2 separate regions of the Homo sapiens genome follow, and region 1 is linked to region 2. Evidence: fine-mapped expression QTL. A gene starts in region 2. The other region holds a variant in brackets. All regions are shown on one strand. Distances are from middle to middle.

Region 1 (5,386 bases), 22 kb after region 2:
GCCCTTTGCTAGCTGGGGTCCCCTCAGACCCTGGTCCTATAAGGGACTCACACGAGGACCCCCTCAAGGCAATAAAGGGAGGATTAAAGAGCTGAGAGGTACAGAGGGAGCAGCCAGCATCAGGCTCCCAAGAAGCCCTCAATAAATGGCAACTGGTTACAGCCTCTCAGCCCTCTAGGGATGCCCAATGCTGCTGGTGTCTTGATGACTTGACTTCTTCAAGTGACACCCTTCTTACTGTGCCCATAAAATGTTTGCATGTGGTAGGGAGCAAGTTAATATTTACAAATGCAAGTATGCCTAATATGTGTTTCCTGATGACTGCTATAGGAGGTGCAGGGTAATAATTAGCAATTTGGAGACACGTTTAGGACTCATCTACAGGGAGAAACTACCCTCATTTTTCTGATTCTCCAGTTTGTGTGCTTTCAGGACCCAGGATAGATTTCTGCCTGTTGGGGTGGCCTAGATCTTTGTCTCTTGTAATGAATTAACGATGAAGAAATCACCCACCTTTGGCTTTCTTAGTACTCAGTGATCATTGTTTTTGGACCCAACCTGGCCCAACTGAAGACCTAGATTCCAAGAAACCTTCCCTCTTTTCAAATTTGGGACTTGGCACAGATTAGACCTGCTAACTAAAAAAAATAATGATTGATAGGAAGGCCAAAGGAAATAGCATTTATCTGGGAAATAAAGAGTTGCAATTTGGGAACCCTGAGTCATGGTAGTCCTGAACAGTGTCCCATAGGGCAATGCAGGAAAAGTTTTGTACTGGGGACTTTCACAAAATGTTGTTTTTGAAAACAGTTCATTGCCTGGCAGAAATGCTAAACTGCAAACTCGTATGAATTGGTTACTTAATTAGGACACTCCAGGATGAGAGAAATCAAAATCCCATGTACCTTGACTTCAGTCCATTGTTATCCAGGTCTACAGCAACATCCTGTGGCTTGACCTTTAGCAGGTGTGAGTGCAATGCTCTTACAAACGCTTGACTCCATGTTAAAGCTTTAGCCTTAACTACTTCATTTTCTTTCAAAAACTGTACTGGAATATTTGTGAAAAGAATGAAAAATATGGAATAAATTCATAAATACACAAAGAGAGAGAGCTCTAGGTATATGTCAAGTCTGGATTAAAGACAGATCTGTGTTTATTTTTATGAAGCATCTTCTGACTTTGATCCAAAGCAAAACTTCTTCCATGGCCCCATTTAATCCTTGTTGCACCCCTGGGAAGGGAAAATGCTGCTGTCCCACTTTGCAGATGAGGGGCTGCATGTTCCAGGCCACCCCTCTCATGGGCTGAGCAGCCTGGTTGCAGGTCTCATGGTGGCGCCACTTTGCCATTGTTCCCTACTTTGGCTTCTGTAAACACCCTCTCTGAGGTTGGTGAGCTCTCCTGGGGAAACAGGCTAGCACCAGTTAATACACAGAGGGAGAACAATCAGTAACTTTGTTCCTGTGCCCAGATTGGTGGAAGTCACCCTATGTGGAGAGGAGGACTTTGAACTCAGACCTGGACTTCCCTCTGGGACCTTTCCCTACACTGTCTGACCTGGGGCTGGTCGTCACCTCTTCCAACCTTTGCATCCTGCTCTGTAAAATGAGAATAAGAACACCATCCTCTCCACATTATTAGAAGGATTAAAATTAATGTATCTGAAGGTTCTTAACAGTGTCACACACTCATCGTTAGTGATTGTCATCTCAGTCATGTCTCCTGTTTATCGATGCCCCTTTTGTAGCCAAACCCTCTGCCCCCGTGGTATTGGGCCCTGCGGCGAGGACCACACCTGAGCATACAGTGAGTTTCACCTGTGAGTCCCATGGCTTCTCTCCCAGAGACATCACCCTGAAATGGTTCAAAAATGGGAATGAGCTCTCAGACTTCCAGACCAACGTGGACCCCACAGGACAGAGTGTGGCCTACAGCATCCGCAGCACAGCCAGGGTGGTACTGGACCCCTGGGACGTTCGCTCTCAGGTCATCTGCGAGGTGGCCCATGTCACCTTGCAGGGGGACCCTCTTCGTGGGACTGCCAACTTGTCTGAGGCCATCCGAGGTAGAGGACCCTCACACCCAGCCCAAGCCCACACCTGGCTGTCAAGCCCACTCCCCTCTCCCCAGGCTGTTGCTCCAGAGGTTGAATGGCCTGTAATCTAATCCCTGACTATACTGCCCGCCCGCCATGCACCTAGGTGTGCTGGTCACTTACTATCATTTTATTGGCAGCGGTCAGGGGACCAGCAATCACGTGCCAAGCTCTGCGCTAGAGAGTTTCATTTATCTCACCAAGAACAACTACTATTAGTGAGTACCTACTATGAGCCAAGTCCCTATGTGCTCGGCGATTTCACTGATTTTG[C/T]TACAGTTCTTACATTCCAACTGCATGCCAGGGGTTGTGCTTGTAGATTTCACTCATTCTTAGCCTAGTAGGAGCTACCAGTCCTTGAGCACCTACTGTGCACCAGGCACTGTGCTTGGTAATTTCATTCATATGCAAAGAGCGCCCTCAATGTCTTAGCATCTGCTGCCTGCCTAGCACTGTCCTGGTGATGCCCTCACCGTGGTAGTGGGAGTTAAGTTATGGAGCCCTCCCTGTGATCTGTCTGTGCCAGAAGATCAGAGCTTCTACCCTGTGCTGTTTCAGTTCCACCCACCTTGGAGGTTACTCAACAGCCCATGAGGGTGGGGAACCAGGTAAACGTCACCTGCCAGGTGAGGAAGTTCTACCCCCAGAGCCTACAGCTGACCTGGTCGGAGAATGGAAACGTGTGCCAGAGAGAAACAGCCTCGACCCTTACAGAGAACAAGGATGGTACCTACAACTGGACAAGCTGGTTCCTGGTGAACATATCTGACCAAAGGGATGATGTGGTCCTCACCTGCCAGGTGAAGCATGATGGGCAGCTGGCGGTCAGCAAACGCCTTGCCCTAGAGGTCACAGTCCACCAGAAGGACCAGAGCTCAGATGCTACCCCTGGTGAGGTTACTCAAAATTTTTAAATTTTGTCTTTTTCTCTCATTTTAAAAGTAATATCCACACTTGCTGTAAAATAAGCTAGAAGTCTATAAATACAAAGTAAAATTTTAATGTCAGCTCCATCCCCCCAAATCCCACATGCGAAGAGTCATGACTAGTAAGAATTTGATGCACAAGTTAATAGAACTTTTGACATAAATATATGTTTAATTTTTTTTTTTTTTGAGACGGAGTCTGGCTCTGTCGCCCAGACTGGAGTGCAGTGGCGCGATCTCTGCTCACCGCAAGCTCCGCCTCCCGGGTTCACGCCATTCTCCTGTCTCAGCCTCCCGAGTAGCTGGGACTACAGGCGCCCGCCACCACGCCCGACTAATTTTTTGTATTTTTAGTAGAGATGGGGTTTCACCGTGTTAGCCAGGATGGTCTCGATCTCCTGACCTCGTGATCCGCCCGCCTCAGCCTCCCAAAGTGCTGGGATTACAGGCGTGAGCCACCGCGCCTGGCGTACATAAATATATATTTAAGGAGCAAAGAGGCAGGCAGGGGGAACCATCTTCTCATAGAGTCCTTTGCCTTCCCTTATTCCTTGAGAGTTGTTGTGCCCGTTTCTCATCAGCCCACCCTTGTGCTCCCTACTTTTTCTAACCTCTGCTTTGTTTCTGTTTCATCCAAACTTTTCCATCCTCATTTATGACCTCATCCCAGTACACCCTGACATCTGCTGTGTATGTTTCAGAAAGACAAATGTAGTTTAAAACTGTACCAGGCCTGGCGGCTCACGCCTGTAATCCCAGCACTTTGGGAGGCCGAGGCGGGCGGATCACGAGGTCAGGAGATCGAGACCATCCTGGTTAACACGGTGAAACCCCATCTCTACTAAAAATACAAAAAAATGAGCCGGGCGTGGTGGCGGGCGCCTGTAGTCCCAGCTACTCGGGAGGCTGAGGCAGGAGAATGGTGTGAACCCAGGAGGCGGAGCTTGCAGTGAGCCGAGATCATGCCACTGCACTCCAGCCTGGGCGACAGAGCGAGACTCTGTCAAAAAAAAAAAAAAAAACTGTACCAGGCCTGCAGGTGACCATGAATGGTCACAGAACGGACCTCTTCTGTGTCCTGATTGTGATATTTGAGCAACAATAATCACAAACCCCTCTGCAAATTTACTAAGTGCAAATTTCCATTCATCCATGATCTCTGTTTTTGCTTCAACCACCCAGTAAGTCTGGAGTTTTAAAGAAGGGGAAACTAGGACTTGGGAAGTCATGGGGGATGTTGTTGAAGACCTCTTGCCTTTAGATCGGGTTATTGGTTCAAACTAATTAAAGTAAATCTGGGTCCCTGAGGACAAGGTCAGTATCAGCCTAAAATGCAAATTTGTGCTAGTTAGAGAAACAGTCCTCTTCTGCTGGGCATTGTCCCATGGACCTGAAGTTGGCCTGTGTTCCACTCCGTATGACCAAAATATGTCTTACTTCCCTCTTGTGTAATACCAGGAGGAGTCTCAACTCCAGGAGACTTTTCAAAGGCCCAGGTTCCTCCCACATACCTTATGGTGGTTAGTCTTATCTGCTGGGTCAGTGCTAGGTCACGGATTTTTCCATGTCCCTGTCTGCTGGAAGAGTAAATATAGGAAATGGAGGGCAAAAAATATCTTCTATAATCAGAGATGTATGGAAGGCGTGTGATCATGTCCACAGCTAACTCAGTCATGCATGTACACGCAGTTCCAAATGGAATCCATAGTTGGGTGATCTTATGACTAAAGACAGCATAACAAAACCAGTATCATTATTACAGTTAATACAATTTCAAATTTTTAATCACTAAATTTCATAAAATTATTAAAACAATTCCCTTATATCATCTAAAATGGAGTATACATTCAAATTTTCCTCAAATTTCTTTTATGACTATCTTTCTGTGCACTAAATTTGGTTTTAATTCATATTTAAATGCTTTGCAGTATTTTTCTTTGAAACACTTGGGCCTCAAGAATTTTTGGGGGTGTTTTAAAAGTATAAATTCAATTTCCTCAGTAGTTTAGGGTTACTCATATTATTCATTTCATATTGGGTGAGTTCCGGTAACTCGTGCCTTTTGAAGAATTTTGTGTCCATTTTATCTAAGTTGTCATATTTTTGTGTGTAGAGTTGTTCATAATATCTCCTTATTATCTTTTTGGTGTCTGAAGGGTTATGGCGATATCCCCTGTTTCAACCTCATATCTAAAATATGCCATTTCTGTTTTCTTCTTCATCAGCCTTGCTATAGTTTTTTTCCATTTTATTGGTCTTTTCAAAGGACCACTTTGTTTCCGTGAGTTTTTAAATTGTTTTTGTGTTTCCAGTTTATTCATTTTTTGCACTCTTCTTTTTATTAATTCCTGTCTCCTGCTTG
Region 2 (5,386 bases):
TTTCCTTATAAGATCATTAAGTATACTAACTTTAAAGAACTTTACACATTTTGTTTTTTCATATTTGCTCAGGTGTGAAGTTCTTTTGATTGCTATTTGTTTTTGAGTTATTGTTTTTCTTGAATTTGTTAGCTGCAGTGCTGTTCCTCAAATCTTTGGTGATTCTTGCTTGCACTTCCGTCTTCCCAGGAATAATTCCCCATGTGATCATGGGTTGTCAGGGCCTCGTGGAGCATGGCACCTGCCCCAGCCTCACTATGAGGGCTGCTCCTAATTGAGGCTATAGCTTCTTCTCTGCTTTCTTCCTGAGGGATGTCTCTCCCTTCCTGCAAGAGGTATCATAGTACAACCATTAAAAGTGAAGGCTGTGGAGTGTGGCAGCCTATGTTCCAGTTCTAAAAGCCGGGTGATCTTGAGCAAATTCATTACTCTCCATGTGCCTCGGGTTTTCTCACCTGTGAAAGGAGGTTAATGGTTGAGCTTACCTCATGGGGTCAGAGCAATGATTTAATGACATTACCAATAGAAAAATGCTTGGCACCATATCTGGAGCACAGGAAACTCTCAATAAATGATAGCTGTTATAATTCCTTCATGTCATATAGAAGCCAATTGCTTGTATTCAAGTGTAATTAGACATTGATTCATATATTCTTTTCATTTTGTGTTTTCACTACTGTGGGTGTGGAGAAGGAGGGGAAGATTTCACCCTGTGTACATCTGCCACATTAAAACAGGACTTTCAATTAAAACATGATAACATTTACAATTTGATTTGACAATTATTCATGACAGATTAAGAACCTAAAACCCACATGTGAGATGAAGGATTCTGGACAGGTCTTTCTTAGTCATAGATGCTGGAAGAGAAATCATTTCTTTTAACAAGGTGGCTTTTCTAAGGCACAACGGTGGCAGAGAACCAGTGGACTCTTCCTGTACACAGAAAATAATTATAGCCATGTTTTTTTGCTTATAATTAATTATGAGTCAAGCATTCAGTATGGCTTATATTATTCCTACCATAGCTCTACAAGGTGCATATTCTAACATTTATTTACATACAATCAAACCAAGGCTCAGAGAAGTAGTGTCTTTTTGAAAATCACACAGCTGGAAATTGTAAGAGGAGGAATTAATCTATGGTTGAACAAGGAGCGGGATTTAGAGAATCCAGAGGGAGAAACTGATTTCAGGGTGGCAGCGAGAGTCCAAATACACTATATAAGCTGGGTCTCAGGAGGCCTGGGTTGCTGGGAGAAAGCCACTGGTGGGCAACTCAGCATGCAGGAGGGATCCATTCAAAAGCAACATTTGAGTTCCCGCACTTCACCTGGCACCGTGAGTATCAATAATGACCTACTGGGTTTCAGGCATGATATGCTCATTACCTCTTTAATCGTCACTAAAACACTGCACAAAAAGACTTACTATTCCCAGTTTAGGAGATTGAAACTGAGCATAGGAGGGCCCAGCGACTTCCCCAACTCCTTGGCACACACTCTTGGCAGGAGCATGGATTTTTCCTCTTTCCTCATTTCCCATCCGAACTCAGTGATGAATGAAATAGGTGCTCTGTGTGTAGAAGAAAGGGTATTGAAATTGATGCGACGGCCCCAGGAACCTGCCCACCATAATCTTCCCTCATGATAACCCTATCCCCTTTCCATAACCCACAATCCCCACCTCACTCCACAAAGCAGTTGCTTATTACCTCAAACCCAGTTTCTCTCCTGGAAGGAGTCAAGAAATAATTCCTTCTGCTGGGTGCAGGCACATGAAAGTGCTAAGGTCCACAAGAGACTGAATTTGGGCTAAGTGTTGCCAATTATAGCAATTTGGAATAGAAAATCATTTCAGGAGAAGATCTGGTTCCTCTCCAGTGTTGAGCAGGTCCTGTGAACTCTTCTCCTACGTCCAGCGGAGTGGCATTTGGTTGAGGCTGGTGCAGAACAAGACCACAAGCCAACCACATCCTAGGGTCTTGAAATAAAGACTTTAGAAAACAATACCTAACAACAGATCTTTCTTGACTTAAAAGCCTCAAATGGCAAATCACCAAGAAGACCTGAAAATGGGTTTGGGGACACGAGGAGGGAGCACAGGTCCCAGGCAGGCAGGAAGCATTATTTCTGCTAACCCTGTCTGATTATCCTGAAAATGGAGCACGATTAACTCCTTGCTTTGTAGCTGCCTACTGTGCCTGATTTGTAAGTCACAATCTAGAAGCAGGTTACTGTTGCATTCCATCATAGCCACTTCCTCTTGAATTGAGGGAGGCAGGGCTTGTCTTCTGTCTTCAGAGCAGGGCCTGACATCTCCCCAGAACAGACGTTTGAACAGAGCAGGCTTCTGAGGTCTCCAAAATGCCTGTCCCAGCCTCCTGGCCCCATCCTCCTGGTCCTTTCCTGCTTCTGACTCTACTGCTGGGACTTACAGGTGAGCATTGCATTGGGCTAGAACCCTTTCTCCCTGCTTCCTGGACCTAGCCTTGCCCCTGGACTTGCAGCAATTTCAGATAAGCACAAGCACTGCCAAGGAAGGTCAAGGACTGGACATTGTCCAAGAGCAGAAGATCAGGGAGCTGAGCACTTTCTCTGTGGATCTGCAGCTGGCTACCAGAGGCATCAAACCTTGTGAGGCTTCTGCCACCATCACAATTAGTTACATTTTTATAATATTTTATTTGACAAACACAGAAGAATCATTATTAAATCCTTACCTGTCTTGAGTCCTCCTACCCATTTTTGTGTGCCCTCCTCCTCTTTAAGAAGTTCCACATTTCATGCTTACAGCGTCCTATATTCCTTTCTTAGGGCTTCCACAACAAAGCACCACAGACTCAGTAACTAAAACAATAGACATTTACTTTCTTTCTTTCAGTTCTGGAGGCTGAATTGCAAAATCAAGATGCCAGCAGGGTTAGTTTCTACTGAGGTCTTTCTCCTTGGCTTGTAGAAGGCCATCTCCTCCATGTGTCTTGACACATGGTCTTCCTCTGTGTGTGTCTGTATTCTCATTTTCTCTTATGAGAACATCAGCCATATTGGATTAAGGCTCCCCGCCAGTGACCTCATTTAACTAAATTGCTTCACCCATTTATGCCTAGTGCTCCGTTATTGGATCACTAAGCTTGCGGGAGTTATTTATATCCTACTGCTCAAGGGCATCGCCAAGGTCTGATTTTTCAAATTAAAAAAAAATTGCAACCTCGGGCATAAATGGGTTAAAGACCTTGTCTCCAAATATGGTCAAATTCTAAGGCGCTGGGGATTGGGGCTTCAACCCATTCGTTTTGGGGGCACATTCAGCCCATAACAGGCACCACCATCTCCCTTGGTCATCTTGACTTTCCTCTGGAGAATTTATTTTCCCTTCCCCCAGGCAGACAGGATTGGGAGGTCTTTCCTGGTGCCACCTGAGAGAGCCCTGTTCACAGCTCCCAGACAGGCTGCCTGTCTTCACCCCTTTTTCAGACCATGCAGCTGACCCCCGGTCACAGGGCTGGGCACAATAGCCTCTCAGTTGCCCACTGGGCCCTGCTGTGATGTCATCTCACAGGTCTTAGAGGGCAAGGTCTCACTTTTCAAATTATTTTTTTTACACATACACTGTACCCAAATGACAGCAGTAATAGTTCAGCAATTGCTCTCTTCCTGTAAGGCAGATGCACTTCTTAGCATTTTGTGTGTATTAAGTCAACTAATCCTCACAGCATCCCTGTGTGGAAGCTATAACTCTTGTGCTCTATTTGCAAATGGGGAGTGAGGCAGAGGCAGGAACCTGTTCATTGTCCCCTACTTCAGTCCATGGAGCAGTTGGGATCAAGTCCAGGTTGACCAGTTCCAGAGTTTATCACCCTTTTAACCATGTTATGCTATGTGTAGAAATATTAGAAAATGCAGGCAAGCAAACATTAGATTAATAATCACCCATCACACCAGTCAGAAACAATCAGAGGTAAAACACTAGTGTATGTATGTTTTCCCAAAATGTTAAAAATGTGTTGGATGGTTTCTATGTGCCAAATATTTTACTGAGATTTTTAAATTTGTCATAATTGTAATTAATGCACAAAACAACCTTATATACTAACATGATAAGCCAAACTTTTATATATATTTGTGAATGTGTATATATACACATTATATACACATATATATGCACATGTGCCTATGCATGTACATGTACATGCACAGATGAGATTTCATTTTTAATCATTGGTTCTCTTTCTATTTTCAGTGAAATTTTTAACAAAATAAATATTTTATTTTATTTTTATTTGACAAAAGTATGTATACTTATGTACAACATATTAAGAAATATGCATACATTGTGGAATGACTAATTTGAACTAATAAACATATGCATTACCTTACATATTTATCATTTTTTATTGTGAGAACTCGTAAACTCTGCTCTCTCAGCAGTTTTCAAGAATACAATTCATATTATTAAGTATAAACACCACATTGTACAATAGATATCTTGAACTTATTTCTCTTATTTAAATTGAAATTTTGTATCCTTTGACTAATATCTCCCCAACTACACCCCCTCTCTAGCCCCCGATAAACACCATTCTACTTTCTACTTCTATGAGCTCAACTTTTTAGATTCTTCATACGTGAAATCATACAGTGTTTGTCTTTCCGTGCCTGGCTTATTTCACTTAGCAGAATGTCCTCCAGGTTCATCCATGTTGTTGCAAATGACAGGGTTTCCCTTTTTGTAAGGCTGATTAGAATTTCATTGTGCATATATGCTACATTTTCTTTCTCCATTTATCTGCTGATAGACACCTAGGTTGATTCCATATCTTGGCTTTTGTAAATAATGCTGCAATGGACATGGGAGTGCAGATATATGTGTGACATGCTGATGTCATTTCCTTTGGATATATGCCAGTAGTGAGATTACCAGATCAGATAAGAGTTATATTTTTAATTTCTTGAGGAACCTGCATACTGTTTTCACTAATGGCTCTACTAATTTATATTCCCACCAACTGTCTGCAAGGGTTCCCTTTTCTCCACATCTTCTCCAATACTAAATTTCCTCTTTTTGATAATAGCCATTCTTAAAGGTGTGAGATGATAGCCCACTGCGGTTTTAATTTGCATTTATCTCATGAATAGTAAGGTTGGATTTTTTTTTATACGCTGACTTGCCATCTTAATGTCTTCTTCTGAGAAATGTCTATTCGGATCTTTGGCCCATATTTTAATAGGGTTGTTTTCTTATGGTTGAGTTGTTTGACTTCCTTATATATTTTGTATACTGACTCCTTATCAGATGTATGGTTTGCAAATGTTTTCTTCCATTCTATAGGTTGTCTCTTCACTCTGTTGATTGTTTCCTTGGCTGGGTAGAAGCTTTTTTAGTT

The links. PIP is the estimated chance that this variant, and not a neighbour inherited with it, causes the effect.
Region 1: its variant is fine-mapped to the expression of SIRPG in whole blood (TOPMed, PIP above 0.99).

What each region holds. Positions count from the first base shown.
Region 1 is chr20:1,632,870-1,638,255 of GRCh38, reverse strand. SIRPG (signal regulatory protein gamma) reads left to right here. Exons shown (of 6, transcript NM_018556.4): 3 at 1,751-2,068; 4 at 2,657-2,989. It overlaps SIRPG-AS1 (SIRPG antisense RNA 1), which reads right to left and starts at 4,748. Exons shown (of 3, transcript NR_110090.1): 1 at 4,536-4,748; 2 at 906-1,050. RefSeq lists an enhancer at 2,341-3,166. The variant C/T (reference allele first, on the strand shown) is at 2,372.
Region 2 is chr20:1,654,695-1,660,080 of GRCh38, reverse strand. It overlaps SIRPG (signal regulatory protein gamma), which reads left to right and starts at 2,302. Exons shown (of 6, transcript NM_018556.4): 1 at 2,302-2,439. The coding sequence starts at 2,367.